Regions from separate parts of the Homo sapiens genome. Here all the other regions are reported to be linked to region 3. The links are microRNA targets in miRTarBase. Many come from high-throughput screens and were not tested one by one. Region 3 holds a microRNA gene; each other region holds the end of a gene's coding sequence.
The links. Region 3 holds the annotated microRNA hsa-miR-186-5p (CAAAGAAUUCUCCUUUUGGGCU, at 5,800-5,821, shown strand). A microRNA usually pairs through its seed, bases 2 to 8, with sites in the 3' UTR of a target mRNA and lowers its output. Matches are read on the target gene's strand: a 7mer-m8 pairs with bases 2 to 8, a 7mer-A1 pairs with bases 2 to 7 and ends in A, and an 8mer does both.

Region 1 (7,485 bases), not on the chromosome of region 3:
ACGGCAGTTACTTTCACATTCTTAAAAAAAAAAAAAGTTCACAATTGCTATAATTATTTAGAATTAGCTTGATTCTATTATTTTATTTTATTTATTTAGAGACAGTCTCACTCTGTCACCCAGGCTGGAGTGCAGTGGCTTGATCTCAGTTCACTGCAACTTCTGTCTCCTGGGTTCAAGCAATTCTCCTGACTCAGCCTCCTCAGTTGCTGGGATTACAGGTGCACGCCACCATGCCCAGATAAGTTTTTTGTGTTTGTTTCATTTTTTGAGAAAAGATCTCACTCTGTCGCCCAGGCTGGAGTGCAGTGGCGCCATTTCGGCTCACTGCAACCTCTGCCTCCCGGGTTCGAACGATTCTCCTGCCTCAGCTTCCCGAGTAGCTGGGATTACGGGCATGCGCCACCATGCCCAGCTAATTTTTGTATTTTTAGTAGAGGTGGGGTTTTACCATGTTGGCCAAGCTGGTCTCAACTCCTGACCTCAGGTGATCCACCCACTTTGGCCCCCTAAAGTGCTGGGATTACAAGAGTGAGCCACCGCGCCCACCCTAATTCTATTATTTACATTCATTAGCTCCCAAGGCTCTGTCATTGAAGCTTAATTCTAAAACAAGCACTCCTATATCTAAGATCAGACACACTGGGGCTTAGAGGATGGGAGTGATAGACACCACTGCTGACTTGCAATTGTTTTAGGATCTGAGTCTTGTGTATTGTGGCTTGGGTATGATGGAAATCAGAGGCCAACTTGGGCTCAAATCCTGGCACCGCCAATTTCCAGTTGTGTGAACTTGAGCAAGAAACCAACTTCTCTCCTTACCACAAAACTGAGTTAATAACAGTGACCACAGCAATGAGTTTTTATGAGAAGCAAATGAGATAATGTAGACACCATTTGCGTCCCTAGCTTTCTTACCTGTTAACAAGGCATAATTATGGTACTTACCTCACAAGGCTTTTGAAAGGATAACACGTTGCCCAGGTTCCATTCTTAGCAGTGTCTGGCACATACAATATACTCAAGGAATGTTGGTGCCATCCCAGTCAGAAGCAATGCTTGTTCTTTCCTTTCTCCACCACTGGCCAGATATTCCAAATTTTTTTTTTCTTTTTTTGAGATGGAGTCTCACTCTGTCGCCCAGGCTGGAGTGCAGTGGTGTGATCTCGGCTCACTGCAACATCCACCTCCCAGGTGCAAGCAGTTCTCCTGCCTCAGCCTCCTAAGTAGCTGGGACCACAGGTGCTCACAACCACACCCAGCCAATTTTGGTATTTTCAGTAGAGACGGGGTTTTACCATGCTGGCCAGGATGGCATCGAACTCCTGACCTCAAGTGATCCTCCCGCCTCGGCCTCCCAAAGTGCTGAGATTACAGGTGTGAGCCACCACGCCGGCCCAGATATTCCAGACTTATCTGAAAGCTCCTTAGAGTCCACTGCATTTCACCATTCCAATGATCATGATAATCTGGTGTCGAGTTATTATTTCTGAGAACTAGATCTTACAAGTATACTCTCACTGAAATACTCTGTGAATGTTCTTTTTGGAAGAAGACAAAGATACCCACAGCCACAAGAGTCTCAAAGAATTTAGCTTTTCCTCACTTCTTGCTTAAACTGGCTAGTGGATTTAGCATTTGGAGGTTCAGGTCCAGCACCCAACCAAGGCACACCTGCTGAGAAGGTTTACAGCACAGATGTGCTGGCTGTATAGATTTCAAGGCTATCAAATAAGCAAATACTCACTGTAGTAAGTGTTTCAATCACGAGCCACCAACTACTTTATATCTTCTGATCCCTGGGCCAAGGAAGTTTCTCTGACATCTTGAGATAGAATTTTTACTCTATATGTTATATATATATAAATATATTACATCTAATGTATAATATTATATATATTTAAAAATATATAAATATATATATTTTTTTCCTTGAGACAGAGTTTCTGTTGCCCAGGCTGGAGTACAGTGGCATGATCTCGGCTCACTGCAACTTTGCCTCCCACGTCCAAGCGATTCTCCCACCTCAGCCTCCCGAGTAGCTGAGATTACAGGCATGCACCACCATGCCTGGCTAATTTTTATATTTTTAGTAGAGATGGGGTTTCACCATGTTGGCCAGGCTGGTCTCAAACTCCTGACTTCAGGTGATCCACCCACCTTGGCCTCCCAAAGTGTTAGGATTACAGGTGTTAGCCAACGCACCTGGCCTAATTATTACTATAAAATATTAAGTTTAATGATTTATAATTAGCCAAAGAGAAGAGAAGGTGAGGGAAAACATCCCTTTTTACAAATAATAATACATGAGGCCGGGCACAGTGGCTCACACCAGTAATCCCAATACTTTTGGGGGTTGAGGTGGGAGGATTACTTGAGGCCAGTGGTTTGAAACCAGCCTGGGTAACATGGTGAGGTCACATCTCTACAATAATAAAACTAGCCAGGCATGGTAGTGTGGGCCTGTAGTCCCAGCTACTTAGGAGTCTGTGGCAGGAAGATCACTTGAGCCCAGGAAGTCGAGGCTGCAGTGAGCCATGATTATACCACTGCACTCTAGCAGGGTTGGGGCGGCGGGAAACTAAAACCCATTTGATCCAAAGTGAAAAAAAAAAAGGCGGTTAAATGAAAATGAAACTCTGCTGGCTTTGCAGGACTGGCCTGGCACCTGACCAGGAAAGGTTAAAAAAGGTCAAACAAGCCTCCCACTACATGGCCAGGAAGTGGTTTGTGGAGAAATGGTTTGGAGGATTTATCTGGCAATTTCTCATTCATTCAGCTGTGGCCAAACTGAAATCCTATGAGCTGTACCCCTGACACGTAGAGTATGGAAGCCCCAGAAGCTGAAATCCCCCGGAATATTCACGTTCTTCCCTGGGAGGTGGGTGAGGAGGCCACGCACAAAGACAAATAGACCAAGACATATTCTGAGAGACCAGTGCTCTAAGAAAATAACATGTTACGAGACCATGTTTTTCTATTTTTATAACATTTTATATAACTCATAAAACAGTGTTTGTATAAAAATTCACACAAAGTTGCTAGAGAGCATACAATTTCCAAAAATGTCCTGGGTTTTTGTTACATTCAGTTTCCTAAGGATGCACTCCAATCTATGGTAAAATGCAGACATGATGCGAGATTTCATTATCTTTGGTAAAACTATTCTCATTATTTTGTCTCCTCACAGTATTAAGTCTGATATCCACTTTGTGCAGGGTCTGCTATTACTAGGATGTCAGAAAAACATTAAGGCTGGATCTACGAGAGGCAAGTATTTCCCAACAGCAGTAATAGCCCCTTGGCCCTCACCCCCACTTCATGTATCTATACAGTCGATCTACACAGCCAGGCGGGGTGCAAGCTCACGACCTCCACTCGGGAGTCTCGAGATCCCCTCTTGACTGGGAAAGAAGCAAACATTTGTGGGGAACGTTGGAAACGGAGGCCATCTCTAAATGAACCCAGTGGTCATGCTGTGGTGTGGTCAGACCAGCAACTTTTACCAATTAAATAGCCAATCTATTCACCACTAAGTAGATCCCATTGGTTGGTTGGTTGATGATTGCTGCTGATGTGGTTCCCCACTCCCCACAAACATAAAAGGAAAGGAAGGTTTGGAGCCAACACCGAAAGGGGAGGGGCACGCTAGCGCAAATGACACCAGACACGACTTTATTCCCTGTCAAACATTTGTTGTCCTGTAGACACAGCCAAGGTGAACTGAAGGGGGATGCGAACACTCAGTACATTCGTGACTATCTTCATACATTCTTTAAAAACTTACAGAGAAATCAATGAAGACTACCACCTACTGTGACTTACTAGTTCATTCAACATCAAAACGTGTCTGTGCTAATCTTTTAGTCCTTGGGATACAAGGCCAAAAAAAAAAAAAAAAAAATCCAAAAAACAAACAACTAAAAACCAAAGAATTTAGATGTGGGGGAAGGAAAGCGACTGCCAACAGGTTTCATGGAACACATTAAATTTTGAAAAAATAAGTATTTTGTACTTCTATTGCTTCATGTAAAAAATTTAAAATAAAAAAATGCCCACTGGAGCCACCTGTATGGATGGAGAAGTGAGGACACCATACAGACAGGGCAAGGACCTGCAGGCGTTTCCTGACGACAGTCCAGAGATGGTGAGAGTTCCCACGTGTGTCCACTTCTCTTCACAGAAAGGGACTGTAAGATTCTGGGGGAAGATGCCCTACACATGTAAGGTATTAAGAAAATCACTGAAATACGGTTTCCAAAAATTGAACATGCTCTGGGTTACAAAGAGACATATTTAATTCCTAGAACCTGTTGATTTCTCTAACAGGGGTAGATGGGAGTTTCAAAAAAATTATTAATAAATGATTGTGCTTCTAAAGTTGCAGGGTCAACATTCCACCCTCTAGAAAGCAGGGCAATTCATGGCTTGGAGTCCTCGTTTACATCCTAGAAACCAGAACAAATTCCATGGGACCTCCCGCCTCCAGCCCCCAACAACCAGCGGTGGGAAGGGGGAGGTGGTGGGAGAGGGCCACAGCTGTCTTTGGGTAGGGTGCGTGTGTGTGCATGCTGTGTGCATGTGCTGGAGAGACTAAGGCATAGAGAAGGGCCCAAGCGAGGGGGGAAAGTGAGTCTCCTGGCTGCTCCAGTCCCTCCTTTCCAGGCACAAAGAAGTTGAACTTGTTATTCGTGTAGGCCCCCTTCATCTCACTTCAGCTTTTAGTAAGCAGTGCGTGTGTGCATGAGTAGCTGTGTAAGACAGAGAGTCATTCAGTCCCTGTGCCTTTCTAAATCTGTTTGCAGTTTCAACAGAAATAATCTGTAAATGACACTTAGGAGCAAATTTACTAGTTAGATCAGCAACTTAACATTGCTTTTAAAATCCTGTATTTTAAAAAATGCTCCTGGGTACAGGCAAAATTATGTCATACAGCCACTGGAACTGAAGTTCTTATCAGCTGAATGAAGAAAATCCAGATTGTTTCTGTTATCTCTGCATTTTAAAGTAGCAAAATATTAAGCCATCCCACAGGGGTTCTATGACTACCCTGTGTGATTCAATAAATTTTCCAGGACTCTGGTATGACACACTGTTTGCATTCGACTGTTTCCTTTCCCTCTTAAGCATTTGGCCCCCAGAGTTAGGTAGGTAAAAGTATCATTTTAAAGGACTTTACCTGTCAGGGGATTTCCCAGTTGGTGCTCCTGGAGAGCATGCAGCTGGCCTGCAGGAGCCTGACATTCCCAGTCGGGAGGGAACGAAGACATGTGCCCCCCAAGGCAGGGGGTGGCCAGGTATAGGACAGCAGGACCTTCTAGAGAGTCCAAGAGGAAAGTTCTGAGTGGACCCTGGGAAGGGACATGTGTACCCCATCTAAAATGGCCTGTGTCCTTCCAATGCATGGTATCCCCAAGAGGGGCCCAGACCTGGGCCCGCCCTGAGGAATGAGGATGTAGTACTGCCTGGAGTAGCTAACACTGAGGTCTGGGGAAGTCACCACAAAGCTCCCGGAACCTGGATTTTGTACAAATACACACACGGAAAAGTAAACAGTTCATGGTGAGCTCAAAGAGGCCCACCCTTAAATCTAACAAGAAGCCAAAAGCCCCTGCACTGTTTTCCAAGGAAACATGTCCACTCCCTCCAACCAGCAACCATGTATGGAGAAGGAATGGGGGCAGCGGAAGGACACGGCTCAGATGGAGACACTGCGAACGTGTTTCCACGGCTGTCTACATTCATATCATCATCATCCAGTGTTCTCGCCTAAAGAGTGACACAACATTCTACCAACGCGCCTGAAGGACAGGCCAAGCTGAACGGAAGCCTTCCCTGGCACCAGAGCAGAAGGGAAAACTTGCATGTGGTCGTAAAGGACTTCGCACTATTCCATCCCCTCTACTGCCATCCAAGGGGCATCTTGACTCTTCCAAAATCAGATGTAAAAAACAAGGTCAGTAAAATCAGTATCCATGCCACCTGAAGCTATGATTAGCCACTGTGCACGAACATGGCACTTTTAAAGAGATTTTTTTCTAAGTAAAATGGCCCCCAAAGAGCCCAATGATTTTTTTTAAGGGTTTCTTTTTAATTAAAAAAAAATGGGTCAAAATGGAAGATGTAAAATATGGGAAGAGGGGCAAGAGAGTTGCTGGGTTTGCATTATAAGCTGTGAGGGGCTGGGGAGGGCACAACCAGGGAGAGAGGACCCCTAACCTCTGGTCCCTGCCCTCACAGCTTGCTCTCCCCACACTCAGGCTGCCCCGCCGGGGCACATAGGACAGAAGTTGTAAGTACAAGAGACCAAACTCAAGGCTTCTTTCTTGCGGTTGGGTGGGTGTTTACGTGTGCAAATGTAGTAAGCCACTCCCCACGGACATAAGGTGCCTGTCTGTGGATGCCATAGGCGTGCTCCCAAGTATTGCTCAGTCCCAAGGGTGCCCATCGCTCAGCCTCTGGTGACCCCGAATCTCTGGGCAGGTCACGGGCCTTCACTTCTCCACTTTCTTTGCTTTCTTGAGGATGTCGCATTTTTTCCTGTTGGGGCGGCGGCACCTCTCATCGATGCTGGGGATACATTCGTAGTGCCACACCTCCTCCATCTTCTCCACCGGGTAGACGGCTTCCACGTAGTGGCGGATGAGCCGCAGCCGCGTGGGGTCCAGTTGCTTCTTGTTGCAAGCCCCGGAATGGTTGTACTGCAGCCGGAGGTTCTCGGCGGTGAAGAGTTCGGGAAACAGGCGGACGAGGAGCCGGGCGGCAAAGTTGCCCACGGAGAGGCTCTGCTGCACGATCTCACGCACCTCCTTGTCAGACAGCAGGTAGGGAGAAGGCACCGGGAAGTCAGGCGAGGGGACCACCAGCTCGTCCAAGGGGATCTTGCAAAAGTCCTTGCTGCTCCTCTCGGGGGGCAGTGGGGGCCCCTCAAACTCCTCCCGGAACCTCTCGGGGTTGATTGCATAGCTGGTCAAGTCTCTGCACTCAGGGCCCGGCACGTGGACCTTGCGCTGCTGCTGGTAGGAGCGCCTTTGCTCCGTGTCCCGGCGCCGGCAGCGCTCATCCAGTTTGCCCACGAACTCCAGGGTCCAGACGCGGTCGTTTTTGGCGCGTGGGTAGAGCAGCTGCACGTAGTGGCGGATGAGCTTGATGCGGGAGGGGTCCAGCTGCTTCTTGCCCAGGGAGCCGCTGCAGTTGTACTGCTTGCGCAGGTTCTCGTGCGTGAAGAGCTCGGGGAACAGGTGCACCAGCAGGCGCGAGGCGAAGTTGCCGATGGACAGGCTGCTCTCGTAGATGCTGCGTAGCTGCTCCTTGCTGAGCAGGCAGTCGGCACCGGGCACCTCGAAGTCAGGCTGGGGGATCTCTAACTTGTCGAAGTCGATGGGCACCAGCCAGATCTTCTTGGAGCGGCGACCCGGCCGCTCGCCCTCGAAGCTGTCCTCCACCTTGACCACTGAGATGTCGTCGGGCAGACTGGAGGAGTCG
Region 2 (7,485 bases), not on the chromosome of region 3:
TTTATTTCTAAATTTCCTTCCTTTCTAGCAGTCAGTATTTCTTCTAATGAATGTTTTTTTTCTGTAATTAGAAAGACTATAATTAGGCTTTTTAAATTTGTATTTTCATTCTTTGTAAAGAGTGCCAATGGATATGAAGATTAAAAATAATCCAAATCCATAAAAATTAAAAAGAAAATATTAAAGAAGTTATATGAAGCAAAAAAATTGTATAAATGGACAGAAGACATGTAATATTCGCATACAGGCAAACATTCATAATCTAAAGGACACCTAAAAATAGATGTAAGCGAGCGGAGGTTTTCTTTGCTGGCCACTGTTTATCGCATCAGCAGAGGAAAGATCTGAATGACTCAGTGACCAAATGTTTTGTCAGAATCTGGTATTTGGAATACTGAGGTAGTAAAAACTTTATCTGAACCATGAATTACAATCTAAAATCAACTTCTGAGTTTGTTAAACTCTAAACTGAAATCAAGTATTATTTCCCCACCAATATTCATATCCAAAAATAACTTTAAATACACACACACACACACACACACACACTTTTAGTGAACTGGTTTGAATGAAAATAAATTTATATAATTATTTTATATAACAAATCAGCATAAAATGGAAAATCAAACTGCCTCTCTAGATATAATAACCTTCACTGACTGTTGGAAATACATGGATAGCTTTTTAAAATCTTCAGTGTTGGAGTAACAGTCCCTTACATCTTTTCAGCCTCTTGAGTACAAGAAGACTATCATAAGAGTTAGTTCCAGATTGGTGCAAGACTGGAATACACTTGACTGCTTTTATTAAAGCCATGAGGGCATACCAAGTAATTCACCCAGTATGGTCTTATTGCCACCCTTGAAAATCCCTGGGCATGGTCCAGTCCACATAGAATGAATTCAGAAAGGTGTCTCTTGTTGGTCTCTAGAACTATCCTCAGAAATAATAGTAAAACAGTGGTCATGAGTAGCCTCACTAGGCTACTTCATGTACATTATCTTGTTTACTCTCTATAGCAACCATATGAGATGTATATAATTATTAAATTGTACAGATGGGAAAATTGAAATTCAGAGAGATTAAATACAATGCTTGCTCTGTGTTACACTGTTAGTAAGAGAGCAATACATGAACCCAAGTTTGATCCTCAAAATCACACTTTTAATTACTTGATACATAATGTCTTCCAATATTGAATCTAGACTAGGGCAAATTCTCAGCCCAAAACCACACTTCAATTTAGCAATAATGTCGTGCTAGGACATGAGAGGGATTAACATTGAAGACACAGCCTCTATCTTTAAGTAATTCATAATTTAGCCAAATATATTAAATATCTGTAATATAAAACTTACCTAGGAAAGTAAAATAGAGATCCAAGAATCAGGAGTCCTAAAGCATATAATGAGTCTGTTCCTCTTGGAAGCCACACATGTCAAGGTCATCAGTAAGCAGGCCTACTCTTTCTTCATATTCTGGGTTAATGTTCACCTTGACTGCTTGGTAAATTTCCCTCACTGGTGCTGAAGTAACCAAAATGGGGAAGGAGTGATGAAAACTCATCTTTGAGTAAGCTTAGTGGGAAATAGTATATCTGGGCCTATAGAGAAGTTGGGTCATTACTTAGAATGACAACTGGAAAAGTACATAGACTGCTTGCCAATCAGTTTGTTGTACCATGTACCTGTTCACAGACTCTTTTCAAAAAACAAGTTTATTTTACTTTTTTTGGTACTTTGGTCATGTTGTTTCCTTGGTAAAGATCAAAGTTGAATAAAGCTTAACAAAGTTTAATAAAGAAAAGGAATAAATTACTATCTAAATGTGTTAAAAGCAATCACCAAGTTTAATCACTTAAAAAATAAATATTCTCTTAACAGAAATGTCAGCGGTTACTTACAATGCTTAGCAGCTAAATTCCATGAGTATAACGTTTAATGTCTTTTTGGTACATTAAATATTCAGTGCCTTTGATGAAGGGAACAAACTGATAATTTCATTCATGTGCAGCAAACATCAAGGTTACATAAGTAAATTCAAATGTGTCAATCTGTAACTGTATGGAGTCCTGTATTAAATCAAGTGATAAAATGTACCCTTCTCAAAGGCTATTCATGAATAAGCATAACCTTCAACTGAGGCCTGAATAGTCATGTGTCAGTAGGGTTTTTGTTAACATTTGTATGCCAAATTTATTACGATAGCTGTGATAGAGTAGAAGTTATGCTAGCTTGAAATCAGAAAACTCAACAGTGAGACTTGCATCTTAGGCAGTTCTACTTTCTGGACCTCTGTTTTCTCAACTATTTAAATGGAAATAATAAAACTTGTGTTACAAGGATTATCAAAGTAATATGTGCACTTCGAAGTGCCTGACATATCTCAGATCTTTTGAGGAGATTGTGAAGCCAGGGAATAAGTAACTGAAACAAGATCAAATATCCATGTCTTAAATTGTGATTCTCTAGGACAGGGACTCAGTAATTAAAAATATAGGCAAGGGTTTGTTTTGGTTTTTGTTTGTTAATGATGAAAACATTTAAGGACGTTGAGTTAACTGGAGATAAAGCAGCAGCACGAGGAGTAATGGGGAGAAGGGCCTGATGAGAAGGTCAGAGAAGCCTTTTATAAGTGTCTGGCTTGCACTGAATGCCCAGAAATGGAAGCGCAAGGAAAGTGTTGTGTGAGGACCAGGGTAATTATGCAGTGTCACCACTACTCACAGGGATTATGGCCTGAGAAACTAAAATGATACTTCTTAGGTGACCAGAGGATGGGAGAACTTCTTAACTGGTTTGGAGGTCCACATAAAGAATAATTGGGGTCTAGAATTAAGGAAGGAAAAGCAATACAAAGAAATGGAGCAGGGCTATAGCAGTGAACCAATTGGTTGGTAAGTGAAACCTGTAAGATGCCTAATTGAGTAATTTAATGACTAATTTTATTAGGCTAAACAGAACAGAAACCATGCTAATCTGTAACAAATAAGTGGCGCCAGCCTATTACAGTGAATGCTATTGGTTAGACTAAAGCAGATAATAAACCAAGTGTAGGAAAAATGACATTTTCTGATTACATCCAGAACAGGCATAGAAAAGGTATAATAAAGCTTGAAACAGGTGGCTGACAATGCAGAAATCAATCACTGAACTGAAAAGGTAAAATGAACATTGTTAGAGGAATTTAGGATTAAGATGGATGTAGAGCTTGCAAAAGAAAACCTAGCTCTCTAATACTTAAAGTTCTCTAGCCCTAGAAAAAAATACCTCAGCAAGAAATTGCAAGTAATAATTGCACCAAGAGTCAGCATCTATTTTAACTGTATGTTTAATTAAGTTTCTAACTCAAATGAGAAATTTTGGGCCATTTTTGTCAAATTTTTGCTTAGATGGCTACAAATACTTAGCAATTCATTTTCATAGATTTTGTAGCATCCACAAAGCCCTCCTTACTGCAGAGAATGCAGAGGTATTTATCCAATAAACTTTCATGTAATTGCTGCTATACAGCAAAACTATCATTACCGGTAATTAAAGTTGTGATACCTGATATCATTTGTCTCTAGACATTTTATTTCATATTTTCTTGGTATTCTTTTTAAAGCCACACATTGGTGTAAGAAAAGAATGTTAAGTAGCACTGACAGAATACACAATAATTAATTCTTCCAAAAGTCTATCTTAAGCTTATTAGATCTCGGAAGGCACAGTTAATAATAAATGTAATGAACAAGGATGCTGCATAGACAAGTTTTCCACTGAAAACAGTATTTTAAGTGATACTATATGGTGCTTCAATTACCACCAAAAACTGCACTGGTTATGTAGAAAAAATAATGCTCATGAGTATGCAGTTGCAGTTGGGCTCCCATTTACCATTTTTCAGGTGAAAAATCTTGGAAGGTTTGGTGGCTGTTGCCTTTTTTTTTTTTTTAAACTTTCAGGATGATAGTTACTGGTATCATTTGATAACTTTAATGATTTCCCAACCTTAAATTAACCTAGACAACACAGAATTTTTTAAATTATTTTTATTTTTTGATGAAAACAAGAAATACGGTAGTGACACTTTATTTTTCCTTCAAGCACATGGGAGAAGACAAAAGTACTAAATGATCATTGAGTTTGACAGAGAAATTCTACTGGTACTTACACTGCTTAGGAACATAAATGTCAAGTACATTACTAGGGCAAGAAATATCAAGTAAGACAACAGAGTCGTATTTTTCTTTTTGAGGTTATTTTCACAAGACATAGCTATAATTTGTAAAATATTCAGACTATTGAAAGATCACATTCAAATTATATTTCTAAGAATAGAGCCATATATGAACAGAGAGCAAAACAAGCTAATACATTAATGAATATTCACTGAATTCTTCATACTGCACAGGACACAAATTTGGTATTTTTGCACATGTTGTCAATTATAAGCAAAAAGCAGGCCTGTAAACATCAATTTTGTCATAGGCTGAAACAGAGAAAGGAAATGGATTTTACTCAAAAACAGTGACATAAGGAGCATATACCATTAATCTTCCACACATATAAAGGTCACTCCTAGGATAATTGAGAGAAAACATCGACTTACATTTTGTTTACAAAAATCTACTGGTGAATTCAAGGACTTAGGAAAAATTGAAGGAAAATCTTCCTCCAAGCATGCTATTTAAACCCCAGCCCCTCTTCCCTGGAGAGCACCTCAGGGGCCTCCCCTCCCACCCCTGATCCTGCAGGTTCTTTCCTGTGAGCCTTTCCAAACCCACGCCACAGCAGGCTCATTCCTGCTCTGGACTTTTACTCAGTTTCCCAACCTAGATTAACCTCTCCACTGTGTGTGTTCAGACCTCCTAAACCCTCAGGTAGCTTAGGGCAAGGCCTTCAAAACCAAAGGGGAAAAGGGTGATGGTGGATGGTCTTTATCACCACACATGATCATAACTAAGCCTTGACGGCATCACTGTCCCACCTACTGGAACTTGTCCGTGAAAATCCACACAGATGCTGCACATCCCCTTATCCCCTACAAGGAGGCTGGAGATCTTCCACAATGCAGGCTGCAGCCTGCTTCTTCATTTGTTAGGAGCAGGGAAGGAAATGCAGAAGCTGAGAAATGAGGGCCAAGAAAGCCAGGCAGTAGGATGGAGACCCAAGGGACATCAGGGCAGAAACAAAATAGTACAAAGGAGAAGAGTGACCTACAAAATGCTACCCTAGAAGCAGTCCAAGGCCCAAAAAAGAATTTCCATCTTTAGAAAAGTGGAGTGAGGCTAAGTTTTGGTTGCCTTTGCTCACATCACAAAGGCCTTTGCCTTTGACCCGTCCTGAACCCATCACTGTGAGGCCCTTCTCTCTCTTTCCAGCTTCTCAAACTAAAAACTCAAGAAATACACAGGTTTTGGTAGAATGGATGGGGTAAAAAGATAAATATGTCAAAATCTGCCTAATTTAACACTGCCTATAACTAAACAATTAACCTATAGGTCTCCCTTTGAAACTTTCAGACCTTGCTAAAAGAAGTGGGGTGGAGGAATAAGGGCAATAAGAGATCTGGAGCCCATTTAATCATAACCTTTCTCTCTGAACACAATCAGGGAAAGAGCAAATTAAACAAAAAGCCTGCTTTGCCAGTTTTGTTTTCTGTTAATAAGCTAAAACTGCTTCAGAGTGAAAGGGAAGAAAAGGGATGGGAGGGAGAGGGGGAGGGAGAGGGGAGGAGGAGGGAGAGAAAGAGACAGAGGCATAACAAGTCTCACATTCCAGAAATATCTCTTCCTCAATGCCCCAACTCTGGCAACTTTTGTCATGTTCAGAGTGGGTGCAGGCGGGGAAAAGAGGAAATGCCTAAAGAAGTTGCTCACATTAAGGATGGTTTGTTGGCTAGGAGTCAGAAAGACTAAGCTGGAAGGGACTGCGTTCCAGCCTTGCTTTGGGCTCTGTCACATATTACTGCCCATCCTGGTGGTAGGGGGTGTTGCTGTGAGCTCCCTGGGAGCTACGTCTACAGATAGTTCCTGATGAGGCAGACAATGGTGGCCTAAGCAAAGTTCAACCAGAAGGTGAGAGTGAGTAGGGGTGGGCTATAGCACAGGCTTCATACTCACCAGCAGCTGGTCATGACGTAGAGTAACCAAAGGTACAGGAAAACCAATGTGATAACATAGAACACTTTTCATCTATTACCTCAGTCACGCCTAGCAGTCACCCATCAGCCACCAGCTTGTTCTATCAGATAACCAGTAGGGTGGATGGCACAAGCCCAGGAAGGCAGCTGGGATCCAGTTGGTGGTAGTCTGGAATGTCCAATTTGGGTTGATGGCCGGGTTAAGATATCAGTTTTGTCTTGCAGTGGTAATACCCAAATAGCTTACCATAAGTACATGGGTATCAGGACACAGCCAGCATAAAGTATGAAGCCCAATCAGTTATTTGTGAAAATGTATCAAGATTCTTTGTGGTACAGAACCACTTAAATTGGGAGAAGAGCATGGTCACAGATAGGGTCCAAGCCATGCAAAGAAAGGCAGTATGGTACACTATATCTATAGTATCATACGCTTGGCATAGAAGCCGTAGAAGGCCATGCACTTGAAACATGTTAACACAATGCAGAAAAGCATGAAGGCCCAGAGGAAGAATGGCACAGGCAGGTAAGCCAACAATCTTGCAACCGATTACTGAAGATTTAGAACCAAAGGAAAAGATAATCCACAGTATGAAGAGAAAGCAGATGGAAGACTGCATGCTGTTGGCCAAGCATAGGTCCAAGAGGAGGTGGTAAGGAAACTTGTGCAGAAGCTTCTCACAGGACAGAGATTAGCCAGACTGGAACCTGAAGGATCTGGCGCTCTCCACTGGCTGCCTTGGTGGGCCTCGAATTCCTCTACGGGGCCCTTCACCCATCAGGTAGTATTGTAGGGGATTGGGCCACAGTTCTCCTTTGATAATCTCTGCAATTCTGTCGAATTCTAGAAGGCTGTGGTCTGAAAACCAGTTGAAGAAACTAGGGATAGTGTTCCCTTCCCGGTTTCTGTGGATATGAGCCTGGGGGTCTTGGCCTCGGTGCCAGCGGATTGGAGTGGAAAGAGACACCACCCGGCCAGAGGATCTGCGTTCATATTCCTTGACAAGCCCCTCATTTCGGAAGTAGGGGTTGCCCTGAAAGATGAACTTGAATTTGCAGCCTGCTCTGGGGTGTTTAAGCTCCTCCACCTCCAAATTGATCATGTACCTCAGCATGTCTTCATCTTGGCCACTGATCATAGGTGACAGCTGGGGGTGGTTTCGAAAGGCAGTAACCCAGAAACCTGGGATATTCTGGATAATGAAACTTCTGCGCTGCATGTGGAGCCTTCGCATGCGGCCAAACTTGCGCTCAAGCTGAAGGAAGGCCCTGTCAGCCTGGGCATTTACGTTTGACAACTCTTGATCGATGGCCTCCAGTGAGTCCATGCAGTTATTGATCTTCGGGGCCCTGGGCCGT
Region 3 (8,104 bases):
AATTTTAAGTTACAAGTCCTAATTTTTATAAAATATTTTTATTATAAATCTATTTAATATTTTGCTGATGAATGAAGTCCCTAAGTCTGGAAATCACCGGCCTTATTGTACTGATACTGCTCTGGAGTATGTGACCAGTTAGATTGTATTACTCTTGATCAACACATACCTCTTTAATTTTCAATGGGAGACTTTTTCAAAATATGTCAACTCACTTTTCCTAAAACTAGCTCATTTTCTTTAATTCCAGTCTCTCCTTTAAGCTTATGTCAGAGACCTGCCAATTGAATTGTATACATTGGTTGTGACATGAGAGAATAGTGGTTTGCTAATCTCAACTACTTTTTAATAGAATCATTTAATTTCAAAATTTACTGGCTACTTCAGAGAACCTGTGTGACTTTTACCTATGTGTTAAAACCAATTAAACCAGGGCCAAAGGATGGCCTTTATTGTGTTATTGTGTTTGTCTGTGTAATTAGGAATTTTCCAAGCTCTAATAAGGCCTGCTACATTTTAAAGTAGCAAAATTTCAGAATATCAGAAGATTTCAGACTATTTGCAGTTGGTAAACAGTGGAATTTAATGCTTGGTTGTTACTGAGCCCACCCTTCCCAGAAGAATTACGATTAACTGTAGAGGAAAGTCCTTTAAAACTTGGTTATAGCAGAAGTTTGAGATGTTTTCCACCAATACTTTCTATGAATTAAATAAGTCATGTAGGGCAATTTGGAATTGAAAAGAGCTAGAAGTACAGCCATATGACGTTACAACTAAGTTCTCTGTATTTTCTGTGGTGATTTCTAATATGCTTTCTAAAGACTAGTAATTTATTAGATGGGTAGGCAGCCATTGTTGATTAGATGTTTTTTGTTGTCTGGAGATTTGGGCATGATGTGTTTATTATTTAAATCAATTGTCATAGGGTAACAATTTGTGCCCTCTTTTTTAAGGATATGGTGGTGGTTTTAATGAAAGAGAAAATGTTGAATATATAGAAAGAGAAGAATCTGATGGTGAATATGATGAGGTAAGCTATATTTTGGTGTTCAGGTTGAATATAAATTAGAAAAACAGAAAAAATTCTTAAATGCAAAGGAAAACAAACTTTTTTTTAAGTGCAATTTGAGTCTTCAGCAACTGATCATTTTCAGGAAATCATAAATATCTAAAATAATTTTTTAGAAAATGTATTAAGTTTAATGCATTATCAGCTGACAAGCATTTTGAAATTGTTTTTCTCTAGTTTGGACGTAAAAAGAAAAAATACAGAGGGAAAGCAGTTGGTCCTGCATCTATATTAAAGGAAGTTGAAGATAAAGAATCAGAGGGAGAAGAAGAGGATGAGGATGAAGATCTTTCTAAATATAAGTTAGATGAGGTGAACAATTTTCTTGTCCTATTTCCCTTTTGTCTTATTGGAGTTATACCATAACATGAATGCTTTTGACAGCCTCAGACACTTGGTGAAAATATATTCTGTGTTTTCATTTGTTCTCACAAAGGTTTTGGATTTCCACTCTGCCAAGTACTATTTGTACTTGGAACACTACTGTTCTGGAGATACAGTGGTGACCGAAACAGAACCAGTTTTCTCTTACACAGTTCTAGAGGAGGAAATATATAAATAGGTAATTTTGATAGCAGTAACGTTATGAAGACACATGATGTGATAACAGTTTAAAAGCAACTTTGGTTTTGCCGATGGATAATGTCTAAGGAGGTGAAGTTTGAGCTGAAACTTGAATGATAGGAAGGAGCCAGCAATAAGAGCCGAGGTGAGAGCACATTTAGGCAGAGAACAGCAAATACGGGTTCCCTAAATAGGAGATAAGCCAGCAGCCTTCAAAAATACCATACATAGGCCAGTATAGTTAGAGCAGAGGGGAGAATGAGATGAGGGGGACAGCACACATTTCAGGTCTGGTGATACTTGTTCTGTCAGGCCAGAGTGTAAGTTTTATGCCATGTTAAGGGTACCTTAGAGCCTGATCATAAGAGGTCTTGGAATGCAACTAAAGAAATAATAAGCCAGTTTTGAAGTTTTTAAGAAAAAAGTGAGATGTGTTTATCTGTCCTGTGTTTCAGAGTGATGACTGTCAGTATATTGAGATACTAGAGAGGCAGAATGGATCTTCAGATTTGAGGAGACCAGCTAAGAGGTTACTATAATATGCTAGAGAATAAGGAACAGAGTGTCTAAGACTAAAAATGGTGATTTCAAGGACTTTTAAGGAGGTGGACTTGAAAATTCTTGGGTGATGCATAAGTGTGACAGAAAAAGTGTGTATGGCCTCCAGGTTTATGTCTGTGCAATACCTGAGACAAAGTTGTCAAGTCTCTATTTGAGATGAGTTTAGTAGGTGAATTTTAGAATTCAGAATTAATTTGCTGAGATACCTGTGATATATGCATATGGAGGTGCTCAGTACACCTAACTGTTTTATCTTTCCTGGTAGGTAACACTAATATCTAAATGTCTAATTATAATTGAATTTTTGTTAGGATGAGGATGAAGATGACGCTGATCTCTCAAAATATAATCTTGATGCCAGTGAAGAAGAAGATAGTAATAAAAAGAAATCTAATAGACGAAGTCGCTCAAAGTCTCGATCTTCACATTCACGATCTTCATCACGCTCATCCTCCCCCTCAAGTTCAAGGTCTAGGTCCAGGTAAACGGGTACAGGTCAAGGGTAACACCAGTCAAAATGTCAGTATCTAACTTTTTTATTTATAAATTTTGTTTTTCTTGACGAAATAAACTTTCCTTTTTATTTTAAAAATTTAATTCAAATCAACTTTTAAAATAATTTTTCAGCTTAGTACCATACAGTTGTTGTCCAGTATTTTTAGAAAAGTAAAGTCTTAGCATGAAACTTCCTTAACCTATTTTAGCCTCATGCTTTTGACTAAAATAGACTTAAAAACTGAATTAAATTTTTATATACACTTATATTTAATTAATCTAAAGAGATAGCTTACATATAGAAATTAAGTAAAGGGGAGATCTGTATTTTCATTCAAGATGTTAAAGGCTAGCACAGAAATTTTCTAGGCATTAAATCATTGCTTATTACATAATGTTTTTAATAGTTTGCTTTGATATCAGTATTGTGAATAACGGAGCAAATTCAGCCATATTAGTTCTGTTGACTTCATGCTCATAATTTTGAGAAGTCCAGGCGTAAACTAAAACTCTTTTGGTGTACTTGAATATTGTTTGTTGATGTAAAATATGTAATCTCTGATTTTATAGTTAACAATAAAAATAAAATTTTAGGTGAGTGAAAGCAGTGATTTAAATTTAACAGTGTCCTCTTGAAAAACCTTAATCACAGTTAAGTGATGGCATGGGCAATGAATTTTAATCATATTTAGGAATAAAATACTAGATATTAGTGTATAACAATTAGATATATGTTAATTGAGCACTACAAAGCCTGAAAGCTTAACAAAGTGGGGCTATAACTAGTAATTTTTTGGTAAAAATATAGTGATCTTTTTCTACAGGGTATTATTATAAGGGACAAATTATAGTTGTAAATTAGATTAATGAATTTTGTGAGTTTTAAAATTTGTACGAACCATGTCTCCCTTGTGTCATATTTTCCAATAATATAATTACCTAACAATGACAGAATTATACATTTTCCCTTTAATTCTCTAAGCATTGAGTAAACAGAAAAATATAGGGATGAAATACACACATGCCAACATTCAAAACTTTGTACTAACTAGAAACAAAAATAGAAGGGGATTTATAAAGGAAAATGATGGAGACATTTTAGAGAAATTAAGTATAAATCGCAACATTCTGTTTTCTTGGATGTATTCTGGGTAGCTTCTAGTTACTTGTAAACAAAGTATTCATTGTTTTTGTAATAAAGTGATAATGTTTTGTTTTATAGTTGAGTGGCTTTAGGGTAATTTAATCACCTGGAAAGTGATATTTTTTTAATTACCTTTTGTTACTAAATCTTATCTAATTTAAAATACTATGTTTTGAAAGTATATATCTTGTATAGTTATCTTTTTATATGAAAATGAACTCTAATACATATCTTTCTTTCAGTGTTCATATCACAAAGCTCAATTAAATGGTCCTGGAAAAAAAAAATCGTTCCATGTTGTTCCAGGTCCCGTTCAAGAAGTTCTTCCAGTTCGCAGTCAAGATCTCGTTCCAGTTCCAGAGAACGTTCGAGATCTCGTGGGTCGAAATCAAGGTGAATGAGGTAGCATCTCTCTGTAAAGCAGAGAGAAAAATATTTAAAGGCTGCAGAAGGTGTTGCTGCTTTTTTTCCCCTTATTTTGCTTCTACTTGTCGATTTTATTTTAGCATTAGAAAACTAATGCACTTGCCTCAGCTTAATTTTCTCACCATGAAATGTTTCCATTGCCAGCAGTGTGCCAAGACATTCCCATGATTGAAATCAGGTGGCTATTTTGCAATATGCAGCGTTTATTATTTTGGCACTAAGATGTTATGAAGTAGGAAGATGAAGCCAAGTCTTATCGCCACATCTCTAGTATATTAAGATTATATATGGCCAGGCACAGTGATTCATGCCTATAATCCCAGCACTTTGGGAAGCTGAGGTGGGAGGATCACTTGAGGCCAGGAGTTCAAGGTTGTAGTGAACCTTGATCACAGCACTGTAATCCAGCCTGGGTGACAGAGGAGTGTCTCAAAAAAAAAAAAAATTAATAGTAGTTCAAATAAAATTACATATGTAAATAAAAAGAAAAATTTTCTTCATTATTAAAAGGAAGAAAAATAACCCTGCCTCAAAACAGGTCCTGTTTTGCACGGCAGTTGTTTCAATATTTTCAGAAACAAATTTGCCATTTATATCAGATAAAGTTACTAGAGTACTGTATATACATTTTCCTTTCTAATTTTACACACGCTATTATTTATAGAGCACAAAACACTCAAAACTAAATCAGGAAGTATAGTCGGTTAGTTGAGATAGGATGTGGTCTTAAGTAGTAAACAGTGTTCTAAAGTTTCAGGTTGCATGTAGTCACATCTGTAGAGGGAAACATAATTTGAAAGATGCTCTTGCAGGAAATTTTTCTTTGTTTAGTCAAAATATGCTCTCTTTGTTTTTAAGTTAATTTATTATGACCTAAAGGCATCTAAAAAATAAATAAGAAAATGAAATTCCATATTTGTGGAAATTCATATTGAAGTCTAACTGTGGCTGTTTTGGTAAAAGTATTTGCTGCTTTGAATCAAATTTAGCATTAAAGGGCTGCCACAGTATAATCATGTTAAGGAGAAAAGAATGTTGTGCACACTTGCATTATAAGCCAATAAGAAATAGATAACAAGGCCAGGCTCAGTGGCTCACGCCTGTAATCCCAATACCTTGGGAGGCCAAGGTGGGCGGGCTGCTTGAGCCCAGGAGTTCAAGACCAGCCTGGGCAATATAGTGAGACCTCGTCTACTAAAAATAAAAATTAAAACAACCAGCCAGGCATGGTGGTGTGTTCTTATAGGCTGAGGTGGAAGGATCACTGGAGCCCTGGAGATTAAGGGTGCAGTGAGCCATGCTTATGCTACTGCACCACAGCCTGGGGAACAGAGCAAGATCCTGTCTCAAAAAAAAAAAAAAAAATAGAAGTAGAGAGCAAATTATTTTTTATTGTTACCATTATTTAGTAACAATATTTAAGCGCTTTATAGGTAAAAATCCTTAAGTTCTGGTATTCCCTTTGGGAACCATTATAATTAAGGTTTACAGAACACCCATCATATTCTTCCCAAACATTTTTTCATTGCTTGTAACTTTCCAAAGAATTCTCCTTTTGGGCTTTCTGGTTTTATTTTAAGCCCAAAGGTGAATTTTTTGGGAAGTTTGAGCTAAATTCCTTCAACCAAAATATACAAGTGAAGAAAAAAAATTTGTATTTAAACATTTGCACATTTACTTCTACCTGAAGCATGTGAATGTCAACACTTCATATTTCATAAGTAGTGGGTTTTCATAAAAATAGTATTGTAAATATAAATCATCTTAAAGTTAGTTTTTATTTCTTCTTGAATATTTAGCAGTTAAGTACAGTTACTAGTCTTTTGTTGCTGTGCCATATACCTGGTTTTTCCATAACAGTTTAATGAGTTGAATAATTCCACATGGAATTATGTTTATTTTCCTCAGGAAGTGGTATATAAGATACATATTTTAATCCTCAAATGGAAGGATGTAGTTCCTAAACGTAAAGTCCTGTTAATGCAGTTATCTGCTGATTTTATAATACTATAATATTTGTGTATACTTTGAAAAGCCTTAAAAAAAGTTTAAATTCTATTTTGATATAGTAAGCAGGGTTTTAATTACACATGATAGAATTTTAAAGAGACAAAATTAAAATGTTTAAGTAGAATGTTTTCATGGTTGATCCAGAAGTCTTCTGTTGAATAAGCAGTAAGTATTCTTCCTTATAAAATTTTCATAGTTGTTATAAATCCTGTTTATTTTTGGAGCTATCTGATAACTAAATAATCTTCCTTATTTCTTCTTTTAATGAAATGTTTGATTTGTTTCTCAATCAATGAAGATCCAGCTCCAGGTCCCACAGGGGCTCTTCTTCCCCACGAAAAAGATCTTATTCAAGTTCATCATCTTCTCCTGAGAGGAACAGAAAGAGAAGTCGTTCTAGATCTTCTTCATCTGGTGATCGCAAAAAAAGACGAACAAGATCACGGTCACCCGAAAGGTTTGGGTTTCTGTAGAAATAAGAATGGGTGTTCTTAAGTGTGTTTAATAGATAAAGTAAACTTTCCTAGTCAAGGGTTAGATTTTTATTATCTCTTGTGTTCCGACTTTCTACTTTTCAACTTTGAACTTCAAAAAAACATTACTTTGCTTATCCTTTGTACTTTGATCAGGTTGTTTAGAATTGTAGATCAAACCATTCTTTGATCATTTTATTGTTTAAATTTTTAGTTCCATTTATAATTTTTATAGCCAACTCTCGGTTATTTCTGTCTTTTGAGATTGCAATTCAGAAGCTGTATGTCGAAGTAATTTATGAGTTGACTTTTATACTTAGGCTTCTTTAAATACTAATAGTCAAGAATTCTAGAGCATCTAATAAAAAATTAACTTTCAGATCATTGGGAATCTGTCCTCATTTAAATATGTGTAAATGCATTTCCACAGCAAATTGCTTCATGCCCTTTGTCTATAAGGAAATTATTCCTTGTAGCTAATACATTTTTCATTTTGCAGTCCAAATCTTTTTTGAGAAAGGCCTATATTAGGTTACTTTATCTGTACTGACACTTTTAATATTGGAAGAATGCAACTGTCATCTGTCAGCCTTTTCTGCAACAGGCTAATTACTCAGTTTCATTAATTTTCTCTTTGTTCCCAATTATATAGTCATTTTAATGGCTTTATTTGTAGTCTTTGCAAATTTTTCATATTTTATTAGCTTGTGAAAATAAAGATTATGTAAAGTCTATTAATTGCTGGGTTCAGTGGTAGGATTATCTCATGATTCCTACTTGTACAGAATGATTAGTTTTGCTTCTTCACATTTTGGAGTTTAGATGTTAAGATTTCACACAGTCTTGTTTCTCTGCATTTGTTTCTTTGTAAAAAAAATTACTCTGTTTTTGAGTGGAATTCATTCTGTTGCTTTCTTACCACTTCTGCAAATTTTTATCTTAGCCACATATAATCCCCCTAGTTTGTTGTCATCTAAACTTAATGAACATGTTCTCTATTCCATAAGCCAGGTGATTGGTGAAAACACTAAACAACCCTGAGCCCAGGGCCAACCCCTACGGAACACCACTACTTTACCCAGGTTGATATTGACTTATTCATACTAGCTGCATGAATATAACCCTATAGCAAATTGTACAATCATCTTGTGTGACCTAGATTTCCAAAACTTATTTATGAGTATATTTTCTCATACACAGAAGCCTTGCTGTATCTTTTTTACATAATAGACTTCTTACACTTTCTACACCGTGTCACAGGGATTGGTTTAGTCACACTTCCATTACCAAGTTTATATGCTTTTGTTGTACATTTTCTGTAATTTTACACATTTTTGCAAGGCTTTTCTTTGATATCTTAAA

Region 1: the mRNA of BEND3 is a reported target of hsa-miR-186-5p. Seed matches in the 3' UTR shown: 7mer-m8 at 3,930-3,936.
Region 2: miRTarBase lists TSPYL4 as a target of hsa-miR-186-5p. Seed matches in the 3' UTR shown: 7mer-A1 at 5,848-5,854 and 7mer-m8 at 5,239-5,245.

Annotation. Positions count from the first base shown.
Region 1 is chr6:107,062,210-107,069,694 of GRCh38, forward strand. BEND3 (BEN domain containing 3) reads right to left here. Exons shown (of 4, transcript NM_001367314.1): 4 at 2,973-7,485. The coding sequence ends at 6,495. Among named protein-coding and RNA genes, the nearest start is that of MTRES1, 38 kb to the left of the region's middle. RefSeq lists an enhancer at 1-43.
Region 2 is chr6:116,245,946-116,253,430 of GRCh38, forward strand. TSPYL4 (TSPY like 4) reads right to left here. Exons shown (of 1, transcript NM_021648.5): 1 at 4,019-7,485. The coding sequence ends at 6,819. NT5DC1 (5'-nucleotidase domain containing 1) reads left to right here. Exons shown (of 12, transcript NM_152729.3): 12 at 1-3,552. Among named protein-coding and RNA genes, the nearest start is that of TSPYL4, 4.4 kb to the right of the region's middle.
Region 3 is chr1:71,065,398-71,073,501 of GRCh38, reverse strand. It overlaps MIR186 (microRNA 186), which reads left to right and starts at 5,786; the gene lies at 5,786-5,871. It overlaps ZRANB2 (zinc finger RANBP2-type containing 2), which reads left to right. Exons shown (of 10, transcript NM_203350.3): 5 at 954-1,030; 6 at 1,247-1,381; 7 at 2,506-2,675; 8 at 4,140-4,226; 9 at 6,568-6,726. It overlaps ZRANB2-AS1 (ZRANB2 antisense RNA 1), which reads right to left. Exons shown (of 3, transcript NR_038420.1): 3 at 6,318-6,736. RefSeq lists a silencer at 4,950-4,999.